Regions from separate parts of the Homo sapiens genome. Here region 1 is linked to region 2. The links come from fine-mapping of genetic effects on gene expression. A gene starts in region 2. The other region holds a variant in brackets. All regions are shown on one strand. Distances are between the middles of the regions.

Region 1 (5,369 bases), 49 kb before region 2:
CTAACAGCCTATGATGCTCTACGCAGCTGAGGGAGGGGACACAAAGACCAGCAGTGTATTTCAGCCTCATTGTCATGGGAGCAATCAAAATCCAGCATTTAGAATGTGCTCACCACCCCTTTGTAGCATACTGGTCCTTATTATTATTTTGTGCTATTTTTAGTGTCATGGTTCTAGCAGATAGGCTTAGAGAATTGATTCAGGGCTAGTTTAGATCATTGAGAATAGGAAGATCCTGGGTTTTAGACATCAATGCCACACAATTCAAGAATAGGCAATTAATAAGCTCCATTCAATACCTAGCTTAGTCCAACATCGAATAAGTCTGGGCTGAGGGAAACCTCAAACTCATCCTCAAGAACAGGAGATCTAGTTCGAGAGGCTCCTAGCAAGTACACCCCCACTGCTTCACCCTTGGGCCAGGTTCCTCATGCTGTAAATTCAACCATCCATTCATTCGGTATCTATTTATTGAATGCTTACTGTGTTTTATCCACTGTTCCAGATACTTGCTTACATCAATGAACAAAATAGACAGAAACTTGTAATGAAAAGAAGACCCCTGGATCTTCGGAATCAAGCCAAGGTTTAATAACAGGTTCCAAACCCAGGTCAAAAAGAGGGGCAATTGTGAAAGGGAGGTTAGAACTTAGCAAGAACAAAATCTCACACCCCAAACCCTCTGATTCAGAGCAGCTTTTGTGATGACCTCAGCAGCTTCACCATAGGCTTTCTCTCCAGCACATCAATTTAATTACACCAGAGAAGATAGTGTGGGGACTTAGGCAGCAAAATCCTATTTCCCTCAGCAGCCTTGAGAGTCTTCAGTGAATTTTCTTCCCTGTTATGCACTTATTTTGGTATTAAAATGAAATCTACATTGGCTGTATTTTAGGGGAAGCTGACTTGCTGCTGCCTAAGCTTTTCCCAGGCCAGAAGAGGTCCGTTAATCTCTTCCCCACATCCTGATGTGTGTGGGTAGCTCTGAGGGACTCAGAGCTGCAACAAACACATGTTACTCTAGGGTTTCCTGAGCACCTTGTCCTGAAACTTCAGTTTTCAAGGCCTGATACCTCCTCTTCTTCCAGTTGCACCAGGTTACACCTGAGCCCAGGTGTTTTCGGCTGGGCCATCACCTCTTTCCAGCAACTGATTATACCCAAGACTCAAGCTACTCCTCTGTTATTTCCAAACTCAAATACCTTCTTCCACAACTTAGGGGGTTTCCAGCAAATAAATAAAGAATACAAAGCAAATATGAGGAAAAATCTTTAATATATTCCCAGCTAAGTTCAGAAGCACCTCCTGAGTGGTTTTACGTTGGTAATCTGAATCATCGAGAGTCTCTTGAGCAGGAGGACAGGGGATCTAGGGAAACAAACTGAGCTTTTTTCCACATTTGCAATTCTGAGTGCAGCCCAGACCAAGAGGCTTCACCCCATTTCACTCCTCAGAGCAGTCTGAGCTGATGAGGGAAGGAGGCTCCCAAGACTCAAGCTACTCCTCTGTTATTTCCAAACTCAAATACCTCCTTCCACAACTTGCAGAATTGTGGGGAAAGACTCAAACCTCTGACACTACGTCCATCCTGCAGGTCTCTGTGCAGCTGCCCCCAAACAAGCATTTCCTCTGTCGCTAGAATAAGACTATATTTCTATGTTCCTGCTGTACCTAGCAGCTCTCTTGGTGCTGAGGCTGAGGCCAGGAGGCCTGCAGCAAAGCCTCAAATACAAATGCATTTTGCTTTTCAGTGGATTTGTTTCCTTGGCTCAGTGCACAGAATTGCTGCCATAAGCCTGCATAGACCGGCAAACATTTACACACTCAAACGACATAACCCTGGGGCCTCACATAAATAAGAAAACTTATCCTTAATTTTTAAATCCTATATATTTACTTCTTGTTATCTCCCTCTTCTAAGAGAAAGAATGACAGCAACAGATGATATCTACTGAGTGCTTATATGTGTAAGGCACCATTCTGAACATTTACATGAATTAACTCATTTCTCCTGAAAGCAACCCATGTAAGATATTATTACTCCCACTTTTCAGACTAGAAAACCAAATCATTTACACAGCAAAGAAGTGGCAGAACTGGAATTCGAATCCAGGCAGTTTGTGTCCAGAGCTGGTGCTTCTATTCTAAGAATGCTGACAATTCTTTCTCCTTCTCCCCGAACACCCTTCCAAATCCTAATGTCTGGGCTGCTGGCAGGCCACTTGGGTTAAGAGAGGTACCTGAATAGCCTGTGATGTCCATCGCCTTGAGGTTCCGACACTTAATCACTGTGAGGGTGAGCCTGCCTGCAGTGGGCAGGTAGCAAAGGGAGAACATGATCTCTCCCAAGTCCACGCTTTCCTGCAAAGAAGCACACAAGAGGGCAGATGAGGGGCTTGCAGACCATGGGCCTCATGTCCAGTGCAGTATCTGCTGGGGCGCTCTGGGGTCAGGAGGAGGCTCTTGGAGACACTGTGCTGTGTTTTTAAGACTAAGGGACTGGCCTCCATGCTGCAAGTAACAGGGTATAAAAGGCAATGGAAACAATATTGCCTCTTCAGTACAATTTGCCCCTTCCAATATTCCCTCTCAATGTCAACCACATTCTGACCCTGGTCCTTGCTGTTCTGCTTTTGGCCTGACTTGATCTCCATGCGCCCCTTGGCTGCAGCCTCAAACCACCAGCCCCTTTGTGGCCTCTTCCTGTTCTCCTCCAGCCCACCCTTCTCAGTCACTGACCCCCTTGACTTCCTGCCCATCCAGGCATGTGGTCATGACAGTGTCCTGGACAAGACACATGCTCTAGACTTCAGCTGTCCCCTCTCCCAGCAGGTCCATGATTCTTTTCTTCTTCTGCCCCTCAGTGCAGTTGTTCTTTGTCAATCACAGCCAACCAAGGAGACAAACACTTTCCATCCCATCTGATG[G/A]CAAGTGTTTGATGCCAGGCCTCAGGTCCACTTTCTCTTTTCTCCTTAAATGTGGTCATCCTTTAAAAATAAACCCAGCACAGAGCACACGCTCTGCTGCCTCTCCTAACCCCAGAATTGTCATGGCCAGGGATTCCTGGGAGTTTCTGAGAGAACAGGAAAACCTCAAAGACAGTAAGCACACCCATCTGTGGCATTAAACAGTGCCTTGCCAGGTTGCTTCCTCCATTTGATGAAGGAGGGCGCTGTCACGGTGAAGCCTCCTCCCACAGGTTTGAGGAGGGACTCCAAGATATGGAGACATTTCCTCCCATAGGGCTTCCAGAGTCAGGTTTGAGGAGGAAGAGGTCAGCGTTTAGGGTGATTTCAGATGAGGCCCTCCATCCATCCATCCATTCAGTAATTCAGTCAGTTAACAACTATTTATTGAGCACCTGTTATGTGCTAAGTGTTGATCTGAGTGCTAAGGATATAGGAGAGAACAAAACAGACAAAAATCCCTGTTTTCATGGAACTTAAAAAATAAATTTCAACTTAAAAAAAATTCCACCTTTTATTTTAGGTTCAGATTCAGAGGGTACATATAGAGGTTTGTAACATGGGTATATTGCATGATGCTGAGGTTTGGGGTACAGATGATCCTGCCACCCAGGTAGTGAGCATAGCACCCAACAGTTAGCTTTTCAAACCTTGCCCCCTCCCTCCCTCCCGACTCTAGTAGTCCCCAGTGTCTATTGTTGCCATCTTTACGAGTGGAGCTTACATTTTATTAGGGCAAAGGACAATAAAGGAGGTAAGTATATAAGTTAGATAGTCAAAAGTATCAAGGAGAACAAAAGGCAGAGAAGTGGAATATAAAATGACCAGCAGGAGGCTACAGTTGTTGAATGTTTAGCTAGAGAAGACCTCTCTAAGGAGATAATGACTTCTGGGAGAGAGAAGAGTCGAGGGTGACACCAGGGTTTTTGTCCATTCTCCTTGCAAAGAGCCACCCTCTCCTGGAGACTCCTACAGCCCTGTTCCCCCCCTGGAGAATAAGCCAAGGCCCTGTCTCCCCCTACCTCCAGAGCCTGCGCTCACCGCACTCTCCTCTAGGCAGCCCTGACACCCTCACCCTCTTTTCCTAGCCCTAGATTTGTCTTTTTGTCCAGGCCCCCGAAAAAAGTCACCCCCCAAATCAAATTCTAGGAACAGCAGAAGGTGAATACCCCCAGCTTCCCAGGAAGGGCCTGGCTGGGGCCAGGGCGGGGCACACTGTGGAGACAGCCACCCCTCCTGCACACAGAACCACGTGGCCTCCGCAGAGCCAGCCATCCCACACCAGCCCCTGTGAAGCGCCTCCATGAAGATCACTTCCAGCTGTGAGGCTCTCAGCAACTCTGCGAGGCAGGCTTGTTGGCATTTTCCCCTCCATTTCACGGACGAATAACTTGCTCAGGTTTACAAGCCTTGCCAGCTGCTTGGACTCGTGACTCTCGAGAGAGTGGTCCTTGCACTCCGCTTTTGAGCAATGCCCTTCCAGCTCATCTAGGAAGCTGCTCAAGGGAACCCTCACCCTTCTGCACCTTGGCTTACATTCCATCCACTTGTTCATTTTTGTTTCCATTCGTATTTACAGAGTGCCTGCCAGAGGCACCATGCTTTGTGGAGAGTATGCAGTCCCCACCCTCGACATGCAGATGGTCTAGCGGGGCGTAACCAGTTAAAAGAAGGTGCTGGAGTCCCCATCTCACTCAGGTGCATCTCCTGGCTCCCTAGTCCCCTAGTCAAGAGAGAGACACATAGCAAGTGCCCTGTGCCCTGGCATGGGTCCTGCGGCAGGGGGCAGATCAGCATCACATCTGGCTAAATATTCCATGTCTCACATAGGCACTGAGGTGTAAAGAGAAGCCCCTTTATTTCCCTTAATAACCCTTCAAGCCCCAAGTTACTGAAACTCTTTAGATTCAGTGAGCACAGTACTAGGAACCAACCCATTGCACATGGACTGTGTGCCAGGCCTCTGCTAAGTACTTTGCTAGATTATCTCGGTGAGTCTTACCTCAGCCCTGCGAGGTAGGTGCTCTCTCTCTCATCATCCCTATTGCACACAGGAGAAAATTAGTGTTTGGTGAAGTTAAATAACTGGCCCAAGGCTGTGTGACTAGTGAGTGCTTTGGTGCCAGATTTTCATATATCCTTGCCACTGCTCAAACCCCTTCAGTGGTTCCCCTTGTTTGGCTTCTGGGATCAAGGCTCATCTTCTTAGCTTGCACTTGGGGCTTTCAGCAACTGGGCCCTGTCCTACCTCCTCACCTGCTGCTCTCTCCCTTCTCTGTGCCAACCCTCTGCTCCACATGGCTGGTATATTGTTGGTCCTTCTTGTCAAAATGCCTCCCCTTCTCCTCTTTGCTTGGATACTCCTATACCTACATCATGCCCCCACACCACACCCCCATGGAC
Region 2 (5,369 bases):
TCTGGACCTCTGCTTGCTACCTTAAGTCCAGAACCCATGCTGACCATACCTAAACCTCTGCAGCTTGGCTTATGGAAAAAGTTCATTCATTTCTACAAGGCAAATGACACAATGAAAGGTGGAGAACTGCTTATTAGTGTTCACTTGGGGTGTATTAAGGAGAATAGCAGGCCTATGGCTTCAGAGTTTTTAAAGAAAAAGGGGAAACTTGCTTTTAGTTTGGACAGTTTGTGTACAGGTGTTTCCAAGTCAGGGTCTGATTAACTGAGACTTCCTGTGCAATTCCTAGCACAGACTCTAGCCTATAGAGGAGTCTCAGCAAATGACAGTGGAGTCTGAATCTCAGTCTCAGGGTGTTACTAGAAATCTGTAAGCTAGAGACTTAGAACAGGAAGAAGTCAAGGGAAAACATAAAATGGTAAACAGAGCTGGGCCTGCTCTAGCCACTTGCATTTTTCATAAAACTGCAACAAATGAAAAGCTCTAGCATTGTGCTGGTTGGAGAATCTGGACCCAGAGAGCAGGCTGGGAGGCGGAACAGCTGGGGCCTGGTCCTGAACTCCATGGCATCTCCCCAGACCCTCTGGTCACCTAAATTCTCAAAATCCCAAGGCCACTCTCAACCACTATCTTTCTCTTGCTATGATCAAAGGGTCTGCTCCTGCCTCCCCATATCCCTTTCAGCCTCTCAGCTTGGACCCTGGGCTTCCTGGGACTTGTGACTCAGCAGCCAAAGTTAAAGTTTTCCTGAGCTAACAACTAGAACTCATCTTCTGATGCAGCCTGCAGGGAAGGCATAGTAATTCATCTGGGCCTGCCGACTCTCACCCCTCAGGCTTTTCTCACCCTCAACCTGGCCATCCAGGCACCTGTCATTCCAGATTATGGGTATCTCTGTGGAGTCAGAACACCTGTGCCTCCCCCTACCAAGATGTGCTGCACACATACAGCCCTGCCCCACTTCCAGCAACTTCCACCGTCACCCCCAGCATTTCTGCCCTGAACAGACAGGAGAGTCAGCTTCCATCCCAGATGGAACTCCACAGGTATGTTCTCACCCTCTAGGCTCTGAGGGTCAGGACCAGCATTAAGGCTCCACTGGAGATGGATCATTGGTGGAAAAGACGGAAGGGAGCTGGGGAGTAGGGAGAGGCAGGAAGAGGCTCCCTGATAGGGAAAATTCTGTGTCTGGTGTGTATGCGTGGTGTAGGAGGGGATGGCACCAGAGAACCAGAGTCTTATAATAATAACTTGTTAGGCCTAATGTGTTCTGCGAATCTCCAAGGCAGGGAATCAACTTCCCCAACCTCCATCTCTGTACCACCCTCTAAAAGTTCTTTATGTCTAACCTCAGTCCCTTCTGCTGCAGTGATCAAACCATTGACTAAACATTGCCACAACTAGGGACAGCAGCGCCTCCTACGACCCTCACAGGGCTCAGGTGGGCTCCGCTCACCCCAAGGCTGGATACAGCCCCCTCACACACACAAGCCTCCCCTTGGCCCACCGCCCCCTCCCCCGAACTGCTCCTCACGGGTATCTACCTCTATATACGACCTTTAACCTCAAGTGAAAGAAAACAGGACCCTGGGACCTGCAGCCGCTGGGGAGTTTACCCCACCTGTACCTGCTCCCAGAACCGCCGGTCCCTGGCTTCTCGTCCCTGGAGCAGCGCGTGGGGACCAAATTCCCGCCTCTGGCAGCCCCTTTCTCCCCTTCCCGCGCCAGCGGTGCAGAGCCACTGAGCAACTCCCGAGTGCTCCTAGGCCCAGCGCTACTGGGGTCGGGGTGGGGGAATAAGGAGGGATGGAGCCTGCAGAGTCTCCTGGAACCCCGGCGTCCTGGTCCTTGCAGGATCTCCCCACCCCCACTCCGCATTATCTCCAGGCCTCTCACTCCCCCAGCCCCTCCCCCATGGAGGGGACGCGACCCAGTACTCCCTCCCGCCCCGGACCCTCCAGATATCGGGACAAAGAAGCCCCGCGGCAGCCGGCGAGCGTGGCTGCCGGGCACTGGTGCAGCAGGTAAATACCCTGGGCCGGCCGCCACGTCGCCGACCCTCCCGCAGCTCCCGCCGCCAGGGCGCGACACGCCATTCCCCCTGCCGCGACTCCCCGGAGACGCCGCAGCTGCGCGCCAGGGTCCAGCCCGGCGGGGATCGGGCTCGGGACTCACCCGCTCCGGCGAGCTCGACTCAGCTCGGGCTCCCGCCTCGGCTAGGCAGCCGCCTGGGGCTGCGTCCCGCGCAGGGTCAGCGCGGATCGGGCAGGAGGCGCCCTCTTGGCAAAGTCGGCTAGAGGCGCCAGCTCAGTCGCGCACCGGCCCCGAGTCCGAGTCCGAGAGGGACGGAGGGAGCGAGTTATAGGGGCGAGAGGGGGTGGGGGAAGGACGCCGCAACACCCTCATACCCTCCCCCACCCCGCCCCCTGTCCCCCGCCCCCCAGCGGAGACGCGGAAAACCACTCGCAGCCGGAGAGACACCCGGACACAAAGACCTCGTGCCAGCCGCAGACCCAAGTTTCTCCCGGAGAGACTGGGGGTCCGCCCGCGTTCACCGCGAGAACACACAAACGGACGGACAGACCGACGCACGGACCCGGGGACCTCGACACTCGCTAGGAGGCAAGCCCTATTCCTCAGCCGGGCGCCCCTCGTCTCCCGCTCTCTCCATGGACCCCTCTCCTGGCAAATCGCCCGCAGAGCGAGCTTGGAGATGCGAGGGAAACTGAAGCCCCAAGGGTGCCCCGTCCTGGGAGCCTGGCTGTCTGCGGGGTCCCCCGCATTCCGCAGTAGTAATACAGGAGGGCCGGGGGCTTCTACCCCAACCTCCGCTCCCCTTCGGGTCTCTCCTGGCTGTGCAAGCGATGGGCCAGAGGGCTGGACGAGGCTGGCTCCCAATCCAGAATCCCGAGCTGGGGAGTTCTCTCTAGGTTCTGGGGCTCCTGGGACCGGGGCTTTGGGGAAGGGAGATCGCAGGACGGATATCCAGGAAGGGAGGGGGCCCTGGGTCTCCCGTTACCTGCGCCTGCCGCGCTGGGACTCCGCTCTGGGGGCTGCAGCTCGAAGCTCCGACAAGTCTCCACGTCCAGCCCGAGAGGGGGCGGCCGGGCCCGGCACAGCGAGGCGAGGACCGCGAGCGCCTCCTGGCACCGAGGCCCGCCGGCCCCCCACACTCCGCTCATGCCCTAGACACCCAGGCTTGCCGAGCAGCAGCTCGAACCCGCGCCCCGGCCGCACTGGGGCGGGGCACGACGGCCCCAAGAAGACCCTCCCTGCAGCGGCCCCCTGCGGCTCCGCTCTGCTTTTAATCACTTCCCCGCAGGGTCCCCGCCCCTCACGTGGCATCCCGCGGCAGCTGGCGAGTCTGGCGCCTCGCGGCCGCCCCCTCTACACTCAGGGACTGGCCTGAGTCCGGGGGGTGGGGGTTTCGAGGCGGGAAGCCGGGCTGTCCCGAATCTCGGAGGGTGCAAGGCCAGGAAAGAGTCCGGGTTCCCACTCCGCATTCACTGCCTGGTGTGACCTTGGGCGTCTCTGAGCCTCAATTTTCCTCTCCGTAAAGGAGGTGTAATGATTTTAAGTACTTCACGGACTCCCTGGGGATAGAAAGATCGTGTTTGTGAAAACACTGGGTAAACTGCCACATGCCACACGAATGACAGAGAAATAGATAACCCCGTAACAGAAAGAGCGACGGTCAGGCAGGGTCTGGGAGGACCTTGGCCGAGGTTCCTGACGGGAGCAGTTAGACTGGCCCCCGAGTCCCAGCTTCGGAGGTAGAAGACCCCAAGACAGGCGGGCGATGCGAACTGCAAGACTTTCCGAGCTCCGCAATCCTGCGGTCCGCGGTACCCGCATGTTGCTATGGCGACGGGAGGCAGCGGCCGTCTCTCTCCATGGCAACGGGAGGGAAAAGTTTCTGGCAAACAGGAATGGGGGGTCATTTCAAGAGGGCGCAGGGCGCTCAGTTCCGCCGACCCACCTCCTTGCTTCGGTGAAACAGCACCAGAGATCATGTATCTTTCTGCTAAGCATAACAAGAAAGACAGAAAGCTCAACGGGAGGATTGAGGCTAGACTTAAAGTAGAGATCCCCTCAGAAACTGTGGAGTGAGGCCCAGGAACAGATCGGCTGAGAGGCTTCGAGCTGCCTCACTCAGCGCTGGAAGTCTGTGAGCCATGGTCAGGGAGGCCGGGGGACCAGCGCCCTGCAGGGGCCTATCTCGGGAGTCTCTTGATCTACACCTGTCGGCGGTGGGGCCCCTTCTGTGTGGGGCTCGCCTGAAGCCCCAGACTCAGGTCCATTTGCTCTCCCGGAGCTGGGAAGGAAGCTTTAGCTGCAGCCCCTGGAGGCTGCTGGGTTGGTGTATGCCCGAGTGGCTGGCGAGGGAGAAAGGTCTTGCCTCTTAATTAACACGCTTATTGGAAGTGACTCGGGCAGTGACTCACGTTCCGGAGGGAGGAGATTCGGAGCCTTAGCTCCTGGCGGTCTCCACTGCGCGCCATCTGTGCCAACCGGCCCTTGGACTTGCGATCCCCTAGCAGCTGGTGCCTGGGGCACCAAGGGCTAAGGCAAGGCCTGTGAGGACCCTGGCCCAGCCAGGCGGCTTTTCCACCGTGAGGCGCCCCCTGGCTCTGTCCACGGTGCTGAAGACCCAGTTGGTGCTACCATCGCGTGGGCATAAGTTTAGGGGACGAGGGAGAGGCAATTGTTGAAGGTTCGCAGCTTCCACCCTGACCCCTGTGCCTGTGATAGCAGAAGGCTAGGAACTCAGGCAGGGACCAAGCAGACACGACGCAGGCGATACTGTGCAATCCGGGCTGCCTTCCTGCTGGAGGTGTTTGGTTGCTGTTCCAAGAACAAGTGGGGCTCTGGCATCCCTATGCGCCTTCCTGGTGCTTCTGAAAACCCACCTGAGGAGCCTAGAGGCCCCATTAATTTCTTTTCCATCACCCGATGCAGATCTCAGCACCCAGAAGAGCCTCTGGCTAAACGCTTATTAGCAGTTTCCCAAGTGGCAGGTTTGTGTTTATGTAAAATACAAATGGAGAACTGCTCTTTGCCCGTGTTTATGGCAACTCTGTCACTCCCCTGCTATTTCTCCCTCCCCCTCGCGAGTTCCTGGGGGAAATTCACAGAACAAAGCACCTTGTTTTGCCTTTGCAGAGAATGAAAAAACACAGGACCATTCCAAGGGCCCAGACCTGTGATGCAGGGAAATCAATATTTTGCTTACATCGAGTGGGGGAATTTGCATCTAAACTGAAGGCAAAGGAGCTTGTTTGGAGCAGAGCAGGTGGCAGGAGCCGAGAATTAACAGATAATTTCTCATTGTTCCTGGATTCAGCCTCCACACTCGGCAGGCGCTTCTG

Which allele goes with the higher level. Positions count from the first base shown, and alleles are read on the strand shown. Sizes are in standard deviations (SD) of each study's normalised expression.
For the expression in skeletal muscle of the gene that starts at base 3,279 in region 2, G is the low allele of the variant in region 1 and A is the other (moderate effect, 0.52 SD a copy in GTEx).

Evidence for each region. PIP is the estimated chance that this variant, and not a neighbour inherited with it, causes the effect. A credible set is the group of variants that fine-mapping cannot tell apart.
Region 1: its variant is the best candidate, but not a certain one, in a credible set for the expression of SYT6 in skeletal muscle (GTEx, PIP 0.55).

The regions. Positions count from the first base shown.
Region 1 is chr1:114,101,361-114,106,729 of GRCh38, forward strand. SYT6 (synaptotagmin 6) reads right to left here. Exons shown (of 8, transcript NM_001253772.2): 4 at 2,241-2,361. Among named protein-coding and RNA genes, the nearest start is that of SYT6, 50 kb to the right of the region's middle. RefSeq lists an enhancer at 3,535-4,182. The variant G/A (reference allele first, on the strand shown) is at 2,928.
Region 2 is chr1:114,150,591-114,155,959 of GRCh38, forward strand. SYT6 (synaptotagmin 6) reads right to left here and starts at 3,279. Exons shown (of 8, transcript NM_001253772.2): 1 at 3,020-3,279. The coding sequence starts at 3,182. RefSeq lists an enhancer at 4,454-5,067.